Regions from separate parts of the Homo sapiens genome. Here region 1 is linked to region 2. Evidence: fine-mapped expression QTL. Tissue or cell type: whole blood. Region 2 holds a variant in brackets; the other region holds the start of a gene. All regions are shown on one strand. Distances are between the middles of the regions.

Region 1 (5,636 bases), 37 kb after region 2:
AGGAAAGTGTAAAGTGTGTTTGGTTATGGGAATACCCTATGAAAAACCCAAAGGGTGAATTTTTATGAGAAAATAAAAGACTGACTTCACCAGAAAAGACTTTTTACATTAAAATGAAGTAGAATGAAATACAACATTGAACATGTCATATTGAGAGGCAAGATAATTGGGACTTGACCTGAATTGGGAGTGATGTGTCCTATGTTACACCAAAATCTGCCACTGATGAGAGTGATCAGTCAGTTAACCTGGGGTTTCAGATTCAATAATAGATGAGCTGAAAATAATGAAGGGAGGATTCATGCAGAAGCACGTTTTCTCAGAAGAAGGAATGTGTATGACTCAAAGTCCAAATAGGAGTATTATATTGGATCATCTTTCTTCTGGAACTTTGAGCCAGGATTAAAGGATAGCTGTAAAGTCAAGGAGATATTCTGATGCAGAAATCAGTTCTCACAACATCTGATTGATGTCTGATGTCTCACAACATCTCTTTAGTCTATTTTTAAAATATATAATTTTCTTTGCAGTAAGTATTGCGACATATATTTCCATTCTATAGAAGGGGAAGCAAAACTTCAGGAGTTTTTGAAGTAGGAAAGGTTAAAGCAGGAGGATTGAGCCAAGAGAGTCTGAGGACAATCGTAGGAGTCCTACTCTTCATTTGGCACAAAAATGACAATGCTTAGTTAGGCAGAAGGTGAGTATGGATTGTATAAACTAAGAACTGGAAAAGACTTTGCAGTTCAAGGAATCCTTAGCTCTGTCTCCAGGCTAGACAAAATAAGAAATAAAAGCTATCACTTCTGTGTGGTGCTTATAGAATAGAATTAACATATCAGCATTATGGGATCTTTAGGGTGTCGCTTTCCTGGCCAGTCTAGTGGCACCTTTGCCTGAGTTTTGCTCTGGGCCCACTGGGCTGCTTCTGCCCACTCGCACTTGCTACCAACCTGGATCCCGGATCCAAGGGAGATTGAGACGGGTGGAGCAGAGGGGTGTGCTAGGGGTGTGTGAGCAAGCGTGGCCACTGTGCAGTCACACACACAAGCTGCTGCCCAGGTTGGGCAGCTCCAGGTGCCAGCACAGGCTCTCCATGAGGTGGCTGGACCAGGCACACAACAAACAGCTTCCCCCTGGACCAGGCGCATCACAAGCAGCTTCCAACAGTGGCACTGGCGAATGCAGTGACGCCAACCAGGGCCCCAAAGAGGGAGTCACAGCCCGGGCTCAAGGAGCTCCCAGGTCTGGGCTTCTCCGAGGGCCAGAGCTCTTCTCTCCCTGTGGGGAGCAAGGGGCATGTTGCAGCCCTGTTTGTGTTACAGCTCTTTTAACCTTGCTGTGCAGCTCCTCAGCTCCTGCATCAAGCAGACAAGTGGAGAATGAGACAGATGAAGAGGAGCATTACTGAGCAATGGAACAGAAGGATAAGGAAGATGAAGAGGAAGGAGACCTGCAGTTAGTAGCTCATTTCCACAGTAAGGATGTCCTTTCCACAGCAAGGGTGTCCCAACGAGTGTTCAGCTTCTAGCAGAACGGAGACCCTGGAGTGGCTGGCTCCTCTCTGCAAACAGGTCTTCCCATTGAGTGTTCAGCTTTCAGCAGAGAGGAGGTTCTGGAATGGGTAGTTTCTCTCCACAGGTAGGTCATCCATTGTCTTCCCATCCTCTCTTCCAATCTAGCTGAGTCTGGGGGATTTTATGAGCCTCAGAGGGAGGAAATGCATGCTGATTGGTCCATGGGCAGCCATGAGTGGGCCCAGGGAGCAGCACCACAAGTTACCTCTCTGGTCTGCAGGCTTCAAGCCCTCACCAGCTTGAGGGTGGGACTTCACTGGGGACCCATCCCCTTCCACCCAGGAACCTGTCTGCCTCCTGCTCCCAGGCTGTTCATGCCAAGGAGCGCCTGCAAGTCAGTGTCCAGCTGTCTTCAGACCCCTCTCAGCCTCCCTCCCACGCTTGTTGGTGCCCAAGTTCCAAAGGGGGCCGAGACGGCAGGGGGCTGGCGTATCAGCACTGTCCTGAGCGTGTGCACGCTCGGCCAGGCTGTGACAGTACCCAGGCTCGGCCCGACCTTGCTCTGAGTTCAGAGTGGGTGCTAACAGTGGAGAGAAGCCAGGCAGCCGGAGTAGGCACCCTGGAGCCTGCAGTGGGCAGGGGACTTTGCTGGGCCTCTGAGAGCACAGAAAATGTCCACAGCCGCGGCAAGGTGGCTGCAGCTGCACCCTGGGAGCTCCTGCTCCACCAGTTCGGAAGGGGCGGGGCTCCTGCTTGTCCCTGGCTCACCTGCTCCTGAGTGTGCAGGTCCGGTGGCGCCTCCTTGCAGGCTGGGCTGATGGGCGGGGGCGGGGGGGGGGGGGGGGAGGAAGGGAATGTTCCAGGTCCTCCCTGGGCCCGGGACTGTGTCCGGGGCAGGGATGACGTCGCTGCAAGTTCTTCCCGTGGCCCCGGGGCTCAGGGGCAGCCCAGGACTCTCCCTCGCCCGGCTCACGGCCCTGCCTGGGGGGCGCCTCCGGGAGCAGATCACGAGCCCTGGGGCTCAGCCCTCAGGCGCGTCTAGCTCGGCGGTCACCCCAGTGCCGGGAGGACCCTGAAGACGCGCCCCAGGCGGCCCTACTCAGAGCCTCCTCCCAAGGCCCAGGAATGCGGCGCTGTCGGAGGTGTGCGCGGTGGCCACACCGCTGTCCGGGTCCCCAAAGCGGGCCCCGCTCCCACTTCTCGCCTTGGCCCCGAACCCTGGGTCCAGCCCCAGCGCTTTGTGTGCGAACACCGCTCCGCCCCGGACCCAGCTCCGCCTTGGGGCCCCTCTCTGCCTGCCCCTCCGTGCCCGACTACACTGCTTCCCCTCCGGCGGGCGACTCAGCCCGGTCCATCGTGGCGGCTTCCAGGGCGGCAGGCTCCGGGAGTACTCCCGGGGCCGGCTCCAAGGACTGTTCCCCTCCTCCCCACTCCCACTCCGCGGCGGCGGCGGGCGAGAGCGGCGACATAGGGCCAGGGTCCGGAGCGGTGGAGGCTCCTGGCCGGGGAGCACGTCGCCCCACCCGGCAACGCGAGGATGGTGGCGGCGCAGTCGGCTGCTTTGGGGTCTCAAGGCACAGGGGACGCGAGGCACAGATGTCCCACAGCAGCCACTGCGGCTCCCGCAGCTGCTCCGCCGCCGCTGCCCGCCCCTCCCTGCTGCAGCTGGCGTGATGGCAGCGGCAGCTCTGGACGCCCCACTGCTGCCACCATCAGCCTTGTGAAATAGGTACTACCTTAACAAATGAAATTGAAGCAGAGACATGTAATTTGCCCAAAGTTACTAAGTTAGTGACAAAGCTAGAATTCAAGACCAAGAAGTCTAGCTTCCATGCTCTTAACTTCCAACCATGGTGACACCTCAAACAACTTCAGACAAAAAGGCCAGGAGAAAGTATATTTCAGAGCTTAATAAACATTATAATTAGCTGTCAAATTAAGTATCAAGCCAGGGCACAGAACATAAAAGAAATCAGAGTATGGCTATGGGAACAAGACAACAGGATTATAATTTTACCTCTTGGTTCTAGTTTTTTTCTTTGTTCATATGGAAATCGTTACTGAAAAGGTACTTTAAGGATATGCTTGTTGCAAATCATTAGCTGTATCACTGACCAAGAGTGTTTATTCCTGAAATACTAACTGATTGCCTACTATCTGCCAGGCACAATATCCCATGCTATAATACAAAATTAAACAAAATAGGATTCCTCCCTTAGAAAAACTCACCGCAGAGTAAAAGAAAAAGATACACATCTGGGTCATTATAATGATCAGGTGCTCAAGCTATTCATTGCCCCAGTGGACTGGAGATACAATGGCCTTCTCAAGTTTTGGGGTATTACACTCAAATTCATATGTAATACTGGAGAAAAGGCCTAATTACAACTTAAACTGGATTTCCCACCAGCCTGGTGGCATGGGAATCTTGGAATTAAAATTACGTAGAATTTTTAAAAGTGATGTATCTTCTACATCTGATTTTGTGAACTGAAGTTTATTCTTTCCAGGAAAGCATATAGATACACGACAGGAAATGAAATGGATACTTGTTGGGGTCAGTTTTATGTATAGTTTGTATTTTATTTTGAAATATGATACACTGCTATTCTCTTGCATTTTCTTATATGTGACTCACCACTAACCCTATATTCCCCCATTTCAGGCCAGTTGGTCATAAGCATCCATTTGCCTCAGAGAATACTGGGTTGTTATGACAAGAATATAAAGTTGGAAAGAAATAGAATATTTGAGTCTACCCTGTAAGAATAAAAAGAATAAAAGGGGTTTAAATTTATTTAGACCCTATTGTTTAATCAAGAATTCTGGCCAGGAGCAGTGGTTCATGCCTATAATCCCAATGCTTTAGGAGGCCAAGGCAGGAGGATCATTTGAGGCCAAGAGTTTGAGACCAGCCTGGGCAAATTATTGCTCGGGAAAAAAAGGTCTTATTTAGTATTTTAGTCTTTACAATGTTTTTTTCTATTATGCAATATTCTCTCAAATACTTTATGTCCATCCACGTTGTCTGAGACATGCCACTTTAACATTCTAGTTATGCTGTAGCTGTCATTTTACCCTAAGCCGTTAGTAGTACTGATCCACATAAAATTGGGCTGTTTAGGTGTTTAACTGTTTAAATGTATAATATATCTGATATATTTATATATTGTATAAAAAATCACCTAACACAATAGATATTTACTATGTCTGCTATAAATATATATCATATAACATATAACAATATATTATAAATGATAATATACTATAATATAAAATATAATAAATATATTATAAATGTACAATATATCCGATATAAATATATAAATATGTCAACTATATTATACATATAAATGTATATGTATAATATATACATATATGTATAATACAATGTATTTATTATGTATATATATAAATGTATATGTATAATATATAAATGTATAATATATCTGATATAAACATATCAGATATATTATCCATCTATTGTGTCAGGTGATTCTTTATACAATATATAAATATATCAGATATATTATCCATCTATTGTGTCAGGTGATTTTTTATACAATATATAAATATATCAGATACATTATCCATCTATTGTGTCAGGTGATTTTTTATACAATATATAAATATATCAGATATATTATCCATCTATTGTGTCAGGTGATTTTTTATACAATATACAAATATATCAGATATATTATCCATCTATTGTGTCAGGTGATTTTTTATACAATATATAAATATATCAGATACATTATCCATCTATTGTGTCAGGTGATTTTTTATACAATATATAAATATATCAGATATATTATCCATCTATTGTGTCAGGTGATTTTTTATACAATATATAAATATATCAGATATATTATCCATCTATTGTGTCAGGTGATTTTTTATACAATATATAAATATATCAGATATATTACATATCTATTGTGTCAGGTGATTTCTTATACGATATATAAATATATCAGATATATTATCCATCTATTGTGTCAGGTGATTTTTTATACACTATATAAATATATCAGATATACTATACAGTTCAGCCCATCAAAGCACCATATTTTGGGGGGTTGGTTTCCGTGTCCCAACACTAGCTACGAAAATATT
Region 2 (6,544 bases):
ACCTTCCAAAAGGCTGAAGATCTAGGTTGAGAAGCAGAGACCATGTCTAAGGCAACTGGAGAAACACACAGGACAATGTATTGGCAATTGTTTACTTGTGCACTTATGAGACTTCAGACACTAATCTATAGGAAGTTAATGGTCCACTCCAAAATAGGTGTTTGGGGCACAAATAAATTTAGTTAATAGATTAATAGATTAAAATATTTCATTATCATATTACTCTAGTGCTCTGTGACTCTCTAAGAGTTATATATAATAATACACAGCACTTCCAAAATATCTAGAAGACATTTTTCAGGTCACTCTTGTTATTATCCCTATCACTCTCTATCCCTTCACACTGCTCTGTTTTTCTTCTTAGGATTGATTACTACTAAATTAGTGTATGTTATGTATATATTTATTTAGCATCTATCTCTTTCACTAGACAGTAAGCTCTGTGATGGAAGAAACTTCGTTTTTTTTCACTGCTGTGTCCTCAGTGCCTGGAACCATGTTCAACATAGAGGAGGCACTAAAAAATGTGATAAATGAATATGTTTGGTGCCTATTAGTTATTACCAATATAACTAATCCACAGCTTTTAATCTTCAGGTGCGCCTAGTAGATGGGAAAGGCGTCCCTATACCAAATAAAGTCATATTCATCAGAGGAAATGAAGCAAACTATTACTCCAATGCTACCACGGATGAGCATGGCCTTGTACAGTTCTCTATCAACACCACCAATGTTATGGGTACCTCTCTTACTGTTAGGGTAAGTTTGGAAAGAAATTACCAATGACATGAAGTAGCCTTGGAAACAAGGTTGCAACCTAAGGGTGAGAAAATTTCCAAACTGTGTCTAGTTCTATGGAGAGAAAAAAACTAGCAATTAGAAACCGATTGAAGGTTAACTTTTTTAAAGTTTATGAAAAGAAGGCAGTATATTGTGATTAAAAGTGCGGGTTAGACTTTAGCAGTGTTGCTGGGAACGTAAAATGGCGGAGCCACTATGAAAAACAGTATAGTAGTTCCTGAAAAAATTAAAAAATAGAATTACCAAATGATCCAGTAATCCTACTTCTGGACATATATTCAAAAGAATCGAAAACGGGGTCTCAAAGAGCTATTTGCACACCCGTGTTCATAGCCGCACTATTCACAATAGCTGAGAGATCGAGGCTACCCAAATGTCCATCAAGGGATGAACAGGTAAACAAAATGTGGTATATAAATACAACAGAATATTATGCAGCCTGAGAAGGGAAGAAAATCCTGTCACATGCTACAGCATGAATGATCCTTGAGGACGTTATGGTAAGTGAAATAAGCTAGTCACAAAAAGACCAATACTGTATGATTCACGTACATGGGGTTTCTAAAGTAGTCAAAGTCATAGAAACAGAAAACAGGATGGTGGTTGCCAAGGGCTAGGGAAAGAGAGAAATGGGGAATTCCTCTTATTGGTATTCAGGTTTAGTTTTACAAGATGAAAAGTTCTGGAGATCTGTTGCACAACAGATATACTTAATACTACCAAACTGTACACTAAAGAATAATGAAGATGGTAATTTTATGTTGTGTGTGTGTGTGTGTTTATAATAACTTTTTTGAAAAGTGTGAATTCCAGAATCTGAATCAGATAAAGTGGTTAAAAATACTGGCTCAACCCTATTTTAAGGAATTAACTAAAACCTCTGTGCTTCATTTCCTTATCTGTAAAATGATTGCAATACTAACACCTGACTCTTGGGGTGGTTGTGAAGATTAAGTGAAATCATACATGTTGAATCACTTAGTAAGCCCCCTTTAACTGTTAGATACTTTTACTATAAAAGCCAATTCTAACATAATTAGCATTTAGTTTTAAATATATATACTCCAAAAATTATTACCTTACTTTATTTTGTCTTGCTATTCTAATTTTCTCCAGATGACCTGTTCATACCAATATAAGTTATTCGGTATAGCATGCAGTCCTCTATTCATCAAGAGAGATGTAGACATGTCTATAGATACATGGATATACAATACATATTTAATATATATTACATAATCATGGTAATGGAAAACGCCTGCCTCTTTAGAGTTTTACCTTGTTATAGAGAAATAAATAATACATTTTATTTATTTAGCTTTAATAGATGGCATAAAAGCACCTCCCTCTAATTTGAATGTTTACTCATTTCAAAAAGTGTCTTGAATGCTTTCCACGTGCCAGCACTGTGCTAGTCTTGACAATGAAATTATTATTTCTACCTGTTCCCTGTTTGGGGTGATCATATATGTGTTGTCACCAAAATATACATTAAGATATGAACAAAATGTTTTGCTCAAGGATTCACTAGTGCTATTGGGAGCTGGGGATGAAGGTAGAGGAAGCCTGAAAGGAGCTAAGGAATAACTTCTACAGGAAGAAAAGTTGGAAATATAACCCAAATAGGGCCTCTGAGGTATTAGAATCCAGATTGCAGGGAGCATTAAAAATAGTCAGCCTAGGCCAGGCACGGTAGCTCACGCCTGTAATCCCAGCACTTTGGGAGGCTGAGGTGGGTGGATTGCGTGAGGCCAGGAGATCGAGACGAGCCTAGGCAACGTGGTGAAACCCTGTCTCTACAAAATATACAAAAAATTAGCTGGGTGGGGTGGCATGCACCTGTAGTCCTAGCAACTCAGGAGGCTGACTGGGAGGATCACTTGAGCCCCAGAGGCAGAGATTGCACTGAGCCAAGATTGTGCCACTGTACTCCAGCATGGGCGCCAGAGCAAAACCCTGTCTCAAAAAAATAATAATAATAGCAATCAGCCTAAGATAGCCCAGAAGAGGTAGACTTCAGCTAATTCATCAGCTCAGCTCTTAAACCAATGCTTTCTACCAATGTCTTCTCAGACCCCTAAGGTTACAATATTTTATTTATTCATAATACCCATTCAAAATCCACCCTAAAAGAGGCAGCTGCTTTCTGAAAGCACAGTTCTTCCATTTCTAGAGATTATTTACTCTCCTCAATGAAGTTTCATAGCTCCAGTGTCTCTAATTGCACAGGTAAAGCAGTCAAAGAAATTTCAAGCAAGCTAATCAGAGCAAAGGATGCCTCCTTTTATGCTCTTAAGAAATATAAATCTCAATCCCAGGAGGCTCTGCAGTGTAAAGTCACAAAGCATGCCTACATTTGAAGCAGAGAAACAAAATCAGGGGTCCTTCTCCCACTTTTCATTGTGGAACAAAAGATTTCTAGCTACTAGTTAAGGTAGGACAGTAAACTTACGTAGTTTTGTGAGAACATTAATCTTTATGACGTATAATCTAAAAATAATATAATTTTTCTAATTCATTAGGTCAATTACAAGGATCGTAGTCCCTGTTACGGCTACCAGTGGGTGTCAGAAGAACACGAAGAGGCACATCACACTGCTTATCTTGTGTTCTCCCCAAGCAAGAGCTTTGTCCACCTTGAGCCCATGTCTCATGAACTACCCTGTGGCCATACTCAGACAGTCCAGGCACATTATATTCTGAATGGAGGCACCCTGCTGGGGCTGAAGAAGCTCTCCTTCTATTATCTGGTGAGAAGGGAGGTTACTGCGTTGACTTCACTGTAGACAAAAGCTCTCTGTGGAGCAAGTAATCATGAAGCTCTTTAGATGTCATTACTTCAACTTCTTATCCATGTTCCTTTTGAAAGTTTGATTTCTCTTGAGGTGAATTATTGCC[G/A]GCAGGGACTCAATAAAACAAGTATATTGAAGTGAGACTGAAGCGTGTTCTCTCTGGCACATTTAATTTCTTTTTATTTCCTTTTTTGCAGATAATGGCAAAGGGAGGCATTGTCCGAACTGGGACTCATGGACTGCTTGTGAAGCAGGAAGACAGTGAGTATTTCCATCATCTCTGCATTGCTGCCCCATTCTGACCCATTCAGCCTTACACCACGGAAGTATCAGAATACTTTCCCTTTTTTTCCATAGGTTTTTGGGGGAACAGGTGGTGTTTGGTCACATGAATGAATAAATTCTTTGGTAGTGATTTCCGAGATTTTGGTGCACCCATCACCCGAGCAGTATACATTGTACCCAATTTGCAGTCTTTTATCCCTCACCCCCTTCCACCCTTCCCCCTGAATCCACAAAGTCCATTGTATCATTCTTATGCCTTTGCATCCTCATAACTTAGCTCCCACTTCCTAATAGCTTAGCTGCCACTTCCTAATAGCTTAGCTCCTACTTCTGAGTGAGAAGATATGATGTTTGGTTTTCCATTCCTGAGCTGGGAATATCAGGAATACTTTCAAGTAACGAGAGACCATTTCCATCTAATATTAATTAAAAGAAAGTTGAGGGAGGGAAAACAATAATGGTTTTTTTCTCACCCTTTATCAAATATGTGTTGTCTTTTTTTTCAGCCTATTTTCTTTGCGTTATTTAAAATATTGGTGTGGGCCAGCTATGATGGCTTACGCCTGTAATCCCAGTACTTTGGGAGAACGGGATGGGAGGATCTCTTGAGGTCAGGAGTTTGAGACCAGCCTGGTCAACATAGTGAGACCCCATCTCTATAAAAGTAAATAAATAAATAAATAAATAAATAAGAACAAAGGGGGAAAAATAAAATACATAAAATATTGTTGTGTATAATCTATGCTTATTCCAGATTTTTAAACCATAAATATTCTTGAACCTCTTCTCAAAATGAGAATTGTGTTAGAGAATGGGGTGGAGAAAATGTACGATTTCAAGGTATGTTGTATATACCAGGTCTTGTGCTGAGTCATTTATGTCATTTATATTATTATAAATATCTTTTTTCCCTTTCAAGATAGTTATGATTTATGAAGCATTAAATTGGGTACTTCTACCGACTGAAGCGGACTCTTGCCATGAGCAAATATGTCATAATATAAACCTTTGAAGGTTGCTCCTAGTCTAGTAGACTCTAAAAGATAACTTGCTAGAAAAGTATCAGTAATCTACTCTCTCATTAGTTCTTGTAGCAACACAGAAGCACCATAGCAGACTGAAGGAAACTTAATGCAACCTCTAAAGAATCTACATAGGCATCAAAAAATAACTTCTGAAGGAGCATGGTGTTCCTCTTATGGAGAAAGAACCAAATATTGGCTCATAGAAGGTTAAAGAGCATGTAGCATGAATACAATGTGTTGAACTCTTACTCTTACATCTCATAACTTCAGGTTCTATTTCCCTCTTCTAGTATGAGGCCTAGATCAAATGGTAGTGAATTGGATGTCTTCATACCCTTAACTAGCATCAGAACATTAGGTGGGTGAGCTGAAGCTTAAAGCTGGTGAAAAATCAACAGAGTATATGATTTATGAGAGGAGAGAGGGCTTTGATAGGGTTTTTTTCTAAAGCTAGAGTCCTTAGAGGTAATCATCCATTTGTTACATCTACTGTTTATTATGTCTGTTACATCTACTAATGGAAATAGTCATTAACCTATGATGGCTTCCTCTCATTCTCTTTGTGCCCCAGTGAAGGGCCATTTTTCCATCTCAATCCCTGTGAAGTCAGACATTGCTCCTGTCGCTCGGTTGCTCATCTATGCTGTTTTACCTACCGGGGACGTGATTGGGGATTCTGCAAAATATGATGTTGAAAATTGTCTGGCCAACAAGGTGTGTGTTTTAGATCATAAAATCTTCAACATGTAAAACTAGAAGTTACTATTGTTATCATTTGTTTTACACATGTGAACATTAGGGCCAAAAGGGTTAAACAAATTCCCCAGAGACATTCAGCAAGGTAGTGGCAGAGTCACACTAAGAAGCAGAATCACTTGATTCCTTATACAAAACTCTCAAACTTCTCCTAGCAGTGCCTCTTACCAATTACACAGTTCAGAGTATGTTATTCCCTTCTTCTATGATGAAACGTTGGGAAATATGTAAGCAAGTTTTTAAGACTACTAAGGAGCCAAAAGAAAAATGCAAGAGCACCTAGACCCATGCATGTCCCACCACAATTAATGAGCACCTTGCCGTGTATCAAAGATAAAAATGGCATTTCATGACTAGTAATTTATAAGAATAATTAGAAATAATTCTACTGGCTCAAGTGATTCTTGAGAATGAAAGAGAAGTGTAGGGAACAAAAAGCTTCAGGATTGACACAATGCCAACCCTCCACGAAGTCAAGCAGAGTGGTTATACATTGTACATGAGGAACACTCTGCAAATGCGAGTGAATGCATGGGTAAACCTGGAAATTTGCTTTTCTGACCTTTTGTTCCAATTTCACAGGTGGATTTGAGCTTCAGCCCATCACAAAGTCTCCCAGCCTCACACGCCCACCTGCGAGTCACAGCGGCTCCTCAGTCCGTCTGCGCCCTCCGTGCTGTGGACCAAAGCGTGCTGCTCATGAAGCCTGATGCTGAGCTCTCGGCGTCCTCGGTGAGTTCCTGGCAGCCTCAGGAATCAAGAAGGGCCGTGCCAGGGGCTCAGAGCAAGGAAAAATGACTGGATAAGTAGGATAAGATCAATTAAAATTATATTTATCTAGGAATTAATTGCTTTGAGCTCTCTTGTGGGCTTTCATTGGTAAGG

Evidence for each region. PIP is the estimated chance that this variant, and not a neighbour inherited with it, causes the effect.
Region 1: it holds the start of A2M-AS1, and the variant in region 2 is fine-mapped to the expression of A2M-AS1 in whole blood (TOPMed, PIP above 0.99).

The regions. Positions count from the first base shown.
Region 1 is chr12:9,061,878-9,067,513 of GRCh38, reverse strand. A2M-AS1 (A2M antisense RNA 1) reads right to left here and starts at 2,337. Exons shown (of 2, transcript NR_137425.1): 1 at 2,286-2,337; 2 at 1-1,688. It overlaps LINC00612 (long intergenic non-protein coding RNA 612), which reads left to right and starts at 2,444. Exons shown (of 3, transcript NR_034140.1): 1 at 2,444-3,246. It also overlaps a transcript of KLRG1 not described here. RefSeq lists silencers at 2,949-2,998, 3,059-3,108.
Region 2 is chr12:9,098,454-9,104,997 of GRCh38, reverse strand. A2M (alpha-2-macroglobulin) reads left to right here. Exons shown (of 36, transcript NM_000014.6): 11 at 598-759; 12 at 3,324-3,551; 13 at 3,791-3,854; 14 at 5,475-5,617; 15 at 6,242-6,391. It also overlaps a transcript of KLRG1 not described here. Among named protein-coding and RNA genes, the nearest start is that of A2M, 14 kb to the left of the region's middle. The variant G/A (reference allele first, on the strand shown) is at 3,700.